Homo sapiens: one gene and its partner. The gene in region 2 interacts genetically with the main gene of each other region. Each region holds a gene or a part of one and is shown on either strand. Other genes may lie near its edges.

What was found.
Region 1: changes in ABCG2 (region 2) and CSK are lethal when combined (synthetic lethality), as found in Homo sapiens cells (one large-scale study listed by BioGRID).

What each region holds. Positions count from the first base shown.
Region 1 is NC_000015.10:74,792,056-74,795,871, reverse strand, and holds part of CSK (tyrosine-protein kinase CSK), read right to left. Parts: intron 2,827-3,816; exon of another isoform or gene 2,624-2,826; intron 1-2,623. UniProt on the Homo sapiens protein: Non-receptor tyrosine-protein kinase that plays an important role in the regulation of cell growth, differentiation, migration and immune response.
Region 2 is NC_000004.12:88,092,545-88,096,360, forward strand, and holds part of ABCG2 (broad substrate specificity ATP-binding cassette transporter ABCG2), read right to left. Parts: intron 3,066-3,816; coding exon 2,976-3,065; intron 2,116-2,975; coding exon 2,033-2,115; intron 1-2,032.

The DNA of each region.
Region 1 (3,816 bases), on a different chromosome or scaffold from region 2:
ATAACAAACAAAATGAGTGTCAATCAACTTTATCTACAAGGCTTTCTGACAACAATAGGCTATTAGTAGTTAAGTTTTTGAGGAGTCAAAAGTTAATATATGATTTTTTGACTGCAGGGAGGAGGTTGATGCCCTCAACCCCTGTGTTGTTCAAGGGTCAACCGTATATTTACTTCAATAAAGTTGACTCCCCAAAAAAGCTACCCTAGCCAACCCCATTCCCTGAGAGCAGCAACCCACCCGTCTGCACACACATACTTTGTAATCCCAGCCCAGAGCCCCCTTGGACCTGTCTCAGGAAGCAGAGGGGCTGGAACTACTGTTTCCTTTCTACGGGTGAGGAAACTGAGGGTGAGAAAGGGCCAGTGGCATCTTCGTGGTCACAGTGTGTTAGAAGAGAAACTCCTCCATGAGCCTCTTTGCTGGGCTCTTTGATACAGTGGATGAGGTCTGGGGGCTAGGCTGACAGTCACAAATATTGCTACCTACCCCAGTGGAAGGAGACATTTTATTTTATTATTATTGTTATTATTGCGACGGAGTCTTGCTCTGTTGCCCAGGCTGGAGTGCAGTGGCGCGGGAGAAGACATTTTAGTGCAAAGTGCTGGGGGTGTGAAGTAGGCACGGACTGCAGAGCTCAGACAGGCTCCCTGGAGGAGGGAGCTCTGGGGCTGAGCCCTGAAGATTGCAGGGCTTACACAGGCAGAGGGCGGGCCAGGGAAGGCACCCCAGGTTGATGCAGCAGTCTGAGCAAAGGTGTCAGGCAGGGGACTGGCATAGTATGAGAAACTGGCCCAGGTGGAAGCCGATGGTGAGGGAAGCGGGAAGGCAGACCCTGCCCATCTGGGGCTCTAGGACCCCACACACTTCCAGAGTCCACCTTGAGCACCGCTGCTCAGGGGACACTGTAGGGGATGGTTTCAAGTGGGCCTGGCATAAACTCTGCCAGGCAGCAGGGGGACTTCCACTGCCAATGTGAGGAACCAGGGTTTGACTCCAAGGGCGATGGGGCCTCAGCAGGGGGGCATGTGATCATGGAGAGCAGAAGGAGCTGGGGAGGAGACGGCCAGGGAGAACCAACACTTCCAGGCCGCACACCTGGCTCTATAGTCAGGCCTGGGCTTAATACCTGGCTCTGTTGACTGTGCGACTTGGGGTGAGTGACTCAACCCTTCTAAGTCTTGCTTACCCTGAAGGGGAGGACAGGTATCTCCTGCAAGCTGGCTGAGGAGGGGCTGGAATGAAACCCTGAACTTGGAAATGTCTGGTGCGCCCCTGCCCCATCCCCTGGATGAAAGAGCTTCCGTTCCTCCCAGAATACAGGGCCCTTTCTATCCCCAGAGGCCAGGCCATCAATCCTGCTGTTTAGGCAGGGACACTGAGGCCCAAGGAGGATGAGCCTGAAACCTGCCTCCATCCACATGACTCAGTCACCACTAAGTACAGGAACCATCCCTTGCCCCTGCCTCCTGTGGACTGTAAGCTGTGAGGGTGGGGGTGGCGGGGACCCCTTGCCCCTGCCTCCTGTGGACTGTAAGCTGTGGGGGTGGGGGTGGCGGGGACCCCTTACCCCTGCCTCCTGTGGACTGTAAGCTGTGGGGGTGGGGGTGGCGGGGACCCCTTGCCCCTGCCTCCTGTGGACTGTAAGCTGTGAGGGTGGGGGTGGCGGGGACCCCTTGCCCCTGCCTCCTGTGGACTGTAAGCTGTGAGGGTGGGGGTGGTGAGGACCCCTTGCCCCTGCCTCCTGTGGACTGTAAGCTGTGGGGGTGGGGGTGGCGGGGAGGGAAGGAGGATTGTGAGCTCTTCTAACCCTCTTACCCCCATTTCACAGAAGCGGAAACTGAGGCTCAACTGGTTGAACAATTTGCCTGAAGTCACATAGCTAGTTAGGGGTGACAGAGCTTGAATTAGGGTCCCACTAGGGCTGGCTGGGCCCCCAACCTTTAGGTCCTTCTGAATAGGGGCCCTGCTAGCATTCCACATCCCCATGCCTCCCCCTTCCTCCCCAAACTCCCTGCCACCACAGGGGGGCGCGGAGGCTGCTGCGCTGTTAGTCACCCTTCCAGCTGTCAGTTTGCAAACACTCCCTTCCTGGCCTACAGCTACTGCCACCGCCGCCTCCCCACTGCCTTGATTATAATAATAAAAATAATAACAGGCCCTGTTTTCTGAGCACTTATTCTGTGCCAGGCCCTGTCCTTGGCACGTTATGGCTCATCACATCCTCTAACAACTCTGAGACAGAGAAGCTATTATTATCCCCATTTTGCAGATGAGAACCCCAAGTGAGGCCCACAGGGGCAAGGCGGGGGTCCCTAGGGCCACACCTTGAGTGAGCATTCTGTCCCCCTCAGGTGTCAAACTCCTGAGCTGCTGAGCCAGCCCTCCCCATAGCCCCGTGCCTCCCTGCCGGACAGGCCCCAGGAGTTGCCATGGGGACCACACTAGCCTAGGGGCAAGGGAGAGGAGGGAGGAGGGAGGAGGCAGAAGCAGCTATGAGGGGCACAGGGGCGGTGCTCAGGGAAGGGTAAGCCTAGGAGCGGTCGGGGTGGGCTGCCTCAAGGAGCTGGGCTCTGAAGGCCTCAGAGGGTCTGGAAACAGGGAAGAGGGCTAAACTCATCACCTTTACTCTGCTGGCTGTGACTCTAGAACCCAGCTTCCCCATCTGTGCAATGGACTGGTGATACTCCTTGGCTCTGGGGGCTGCTGTGAGGACTGGAGTTGAGCTCTCAGCACCAGAACAGTGCCTGCCTTGCCACAGACATCTTGCAAGTGGGAGCTGCTAACTCTCTTGGACGGCTCCTCCCTGGTGGGGTCATGAGACCCCTGAATGAATGAATAAATGAACAAACAAAAGGGGGAATCCAGCCTGGCTACATCACACTGAGGTCCCATAACCAATGGGACTATAGTTAACCCCAAAGGGACTATAGTTAACCCCAAAGCGATAGCAGCTGTCACCCCACCCCCACAGAGCTAGGGGACAAGGGGCTTGGGATGTGGCAGGACCAGTGCTTCACGCTGACTTCCTGCCCCAAACCCGGCTCCCAGTAGCCCTTGTGCTGGGGTCCCGGGAACAGGCTGGCATTGTGCCCAAGCACTGACGTCAGTGGCCGCAGACAAGATGGCTCAGTGGCTTCCCAGCTAGTGCCTAGGCCGGGGTCCCCTCCTTAAAACATCTCCAGAAGGTGAGACCCTCCCACTGCAGGTCAGAGGCTGACAGCCAGAGTGGCTGGGAGGAGCTACTGCAAACTTAGGCCTCTACAACCCAGCGGGGGTCAGGCACAGAGAGGGGGTCCTTCCTGGGGTTATTTAAACTTAAGAGTCGGGCTACTCTATGGAACAGTGCAGGAACATCGTCCTGGGTGTCAGATGCTCTGAGTCCTGTACCCAGCTCTGCCATCAACTTGCTGTGTGACCTTGGGAAAGTCACTTGACCTTTCTGGGACTTGTTGGCTTCTGGTACCTTAGCCAGACCTGTTTCCCATCTGCTGTTGCCAGGACACCTGTGCCCTGTCTCCCTCCCCGCCTTGCCATTCCCTTCACACTCTCTCCTCCTCCTTTACCGAGGGACTTCCACTCAACCTTGGGGGTGCAGCTGAGCAACTGCTTCTGGAGTACCCATGCCTTAAAAAAACACAGCAGGACAGTCCCTGCAGTGCTGTCTGTAGTAGCAGGAGATGATGGGGAGACAGCCTTTATGTCCATCAGTTGGGGGCTGGGTGGATAAATTACAAGATGTCCCTGAAAGGGGACAGCATAGCTCTAGCTGTGATGGGGCCAGGGGAGATCTCTAGATGCCGATACTGAACACTC
Region 2 (3,816 bases):
AGACACTAACAAACAACATGGACCTAACTTAGTTAATTCCTAAAACAATCCAATGTGATAGACATTGTACACACTTAAAAGATGAGGGGACTAACGTTTAAGGAACTTGACCAGGTTTACAGAGTCATACTTTGAATCACCAAGTTTTTAGCCTACTCAAATTTATTGGTTTCCAAATCTGTAATGCTGCTCTCTCCAAAGGGCAGAAATATTTATCAAGTAATAGTTCCCTTATCCCTGATAAAGAAAATATCTGCTTAAACAGATGACACCTGTGACCCTTACTAAGATGATCAAAGCTCTTACAGTACTCTTTACGCTTACAAATAGCCATAAAAAACAACACAGGTTAAGAATTCCAAAACCAGGAAAAGAGGTGTGCATGGGTTTCCTGCCAAAGTCATGTTCTGTCAGCTCTTGCACCAAGACTGTGAGGAGCATCACAGATACTCAGGTACAAGACATTCCCAGCAGACTCAGCTATCAGGTTTAAGCCTTAAGTGGCAGCTAGAGTAGAGTAGGATGAACTCCTTGCCACAGGTTAGGAAATCATCTTGTACTAAAAAGACCTTGGACAGCCACAGTTACTGCCTGATACCATTTTTGTGCAACTCTTGGGAATTCAGCAATTCCAAAAACATACATAGCCTCTCTTTTACTATAAGAATAGCTTCCTCCTGGCCGGCTGCAGTGGCTCATGCCTGTAATCCCAGCACTTTGGGAGGCCAAGGCAGGTGGATCACGAGGTCAGGAGACGAGACCATCCTGGCTAACATGGTGAAACTCCATCTCTACTAAAAATACAAAAAATTAGCCAGGTGTGGTGGTGGGCACCTGTAATCCCAGCTACTCAGGAGGCTGAGGCAGGAGAATGGCGTCAACCCGGGAGGTGGAGCTTGCAGTGAGCGGACATCGTGCCACTGCACTCCAGCCTCGGTGACAGAGCGAGACTCCATTTCAAAAAAAAAAAAAAAAAAAAAGGAATATCTTCCTCCTTTGTCTACTGAGGATGAAGCCTCATCTTCCGTTACCATGAAGCCCATGGTGGTTCCTCCTTATCTGGTCCCATTTTTCCCATCCACTTCATCCTGACCACCCTGATCAAGCCAAAAGAGAGGGACAGAATAAAGAAAACCTCTCTGTACAGAGGATTTCCTGTGGACAATTCAAAAGAGTAATTTGTCCTGTTATTCAGAATTATTTATATTCTACTTGAACATTCAGGAGATTGAGGATAATATCAACATTCTCTTTTCTCTCATTAATTTATGTATCAAAATCAAACCATTAGCAATCATAGAAAAGGCACGTGTTACTAAATTCTTAAAACAATATTATCCAGTGTTATTAGAATCTGTTTTAACATTATGTGAAAACGGGGTTTTTTTCTCAACTTATTCAAGTGTTTCTTGTTTTTTTAGAGGATAAATCGATTGATAGGGAGTATTCCAAGTTAATTTAAAAACAACAACACATGACTATGCGGCCTTTGATTTCATGATGTCTTCCAAATGCATGAGGCAGTGGAAGTGCCAGGATCTTGGCAGGGAAATGTTTACTTTCTTTGTGCTATTGCTGCCTATTTCATTCTTACTACTGTCCGTGGGTTGGGCTCAGAAGTATCCGTGAGTTCAGGGACCCATAGATTTCATATAATCCATACAGTTCAGGAACCATAAGCCCTTGATAAAATATCAAAGCACCTCACTTCAATCTCAAATGCTCTGAAAACCAAGAATTCAAACCCACAATCAAAATATCAAAAGGATCTTTTAAAAGGCCCAAAACAATAAGAAACAAACGTAAGAAACATTGCTGCATGTTAAAGACAATTTTTACTGCAGCAGAATACTGAGGGGTTGTGCCACATGTTCACATGCATTCGCGCACAACTCACTTTATGGATGAGAAAACGTAGGCTCGGAAAAATTCAGTGCCCCTGGAAGGACTCATACAGATCTAAGCCCAGTAGCCTTTATACATCACACCATGGTAGTAACAAAACCCATTTTGACACTGAACAAAAACTTACGTTGCATAGTTACAAGGATTGTTTCCTGTTGCATTGAGTCCTGGGCAGAAGTTTTGTCCCAAAAATTCATTATGCTGCAAAGCCTATAACACAAGTGGGAGCAGGGCAAGGTAAACAGTTTTAAATTTCAAGAAGTTTCCAAAGAGTTATCACAATCATGCCCTCTGAGTTTAATCTTTATTGTTATTTCTAAAAACATATTCACAGTCTTTGTCTCACCAAACCAACTAATGTTATTTTCCCTGGCAATCAAGAAACCTAGGGTTGGGATTTTGGCTTCCAATACAAAAGAAGTAAAGTATTTTGCCAAAGCGGGAGACCTCTGGCTATACTACACCATAGCTCCTTCCTCCTTCTCTCCCCAATTTTGTAACTCCATAAACATTCTAATTAAAATGATACAGTGGTGCTCAATGAGTATTGTTAATTTACAGTGACAATCTTTCGTTCTTGTTTGTTTTCATTAGAACCAGTTGTAATTCTTGGATGTTAGAAGCTTGGTTATACTATATTAAGACACAGATAGTTTACTTTGGAGTTAATGAGCTTGCAAAAGCCAATATGACTATGCTTATTATATGGTCTTTGCTCTTCTAATTTTCCTTTCATTATAAACATATGTATTCTAGTGTCCCATCCTCTCATTTACTTCCTTATTGAACTGAAATGCAACAATGTGTTTTTCATCAATTAGCCAATCTTTCTCCTTTACTAGGAGGTATCTCCCCTAGCCCTTTAAAGGATGACTGAGGAAAATAGCAAATGACTCCCCAGCCTTGTGTTAACCAAGGCTAACAGGAAATTCTCATTCCTTGCTCCTAAAAGGGAGTTTCTGGATGGGAGACTTTCACAGCTCATGGTCAGGGAAATGAGATGAGGACACTTGATTTCCATTGTTCCTAGCTTGGGAATGCAGTCACAGTGACAGACAAGGAAGACATACCGTAAATCCATATCGTGGAATGCTGAAGTACTGAAGCCATGACAGCCAAGATGCAATGGTTGTGAGATTGACCAACAGACCTGAAAAAATCTACAAAAAGCAAATACTAAAAGTCAGGCCTGCTTGAGTAATTTCATGCAGAATTCTAGAGAATACCCTCTTCAAGTCCCTACCACTTTGTAAGTATTTCTTTTAAAACCAACTCTTTCTTGAAGTTCTCTCCACTTACTCAAGACACTCACTAAACTCTTCTCCTCTGCATGTGCACATCTCTATATAGCTGAAGTCATTTACGGTTTTAAAGGAAGAACAAAATATCTAATACATATTAGATATTCCATTTAATCGTAAGATCCTCAATTGTCAAGACTATGTACTCAACTTTATTTGTAACTGCAAATAATGGAAGGTCAAGAAGCACTGACTATTCTAATGACACAACCACTATGTGTGCTCACCAATACACCTGGCATTGGAAGAATCTATACCAGATAAATCCTGAGCGTCACATGCCCACTGCACCTCACATAAGATTTGTTATTTACAAAGGTTTGCAGTCTATATCCATATGACTTTAGCAAGGATATGAGGTTCTGAATGCAGGCTTAACATAACCCAAAGTCTAGAACTGATACAGAGTATAATGTAGTGAGAGGTAGAGCATAAGCAGGATCAGTGCTATCATTTAAAGCTGCCAAAAAGCAATAGCGCAATGGAGATGCCAGGAAGACCTGCTGAAGATTGACAAGAGAACTAATTGCCACCACAAGCATACTGGTATATGCATAACAATGATGATGTTGCTGGTATGACAATATATATTCAGACTTGACCTGACCAA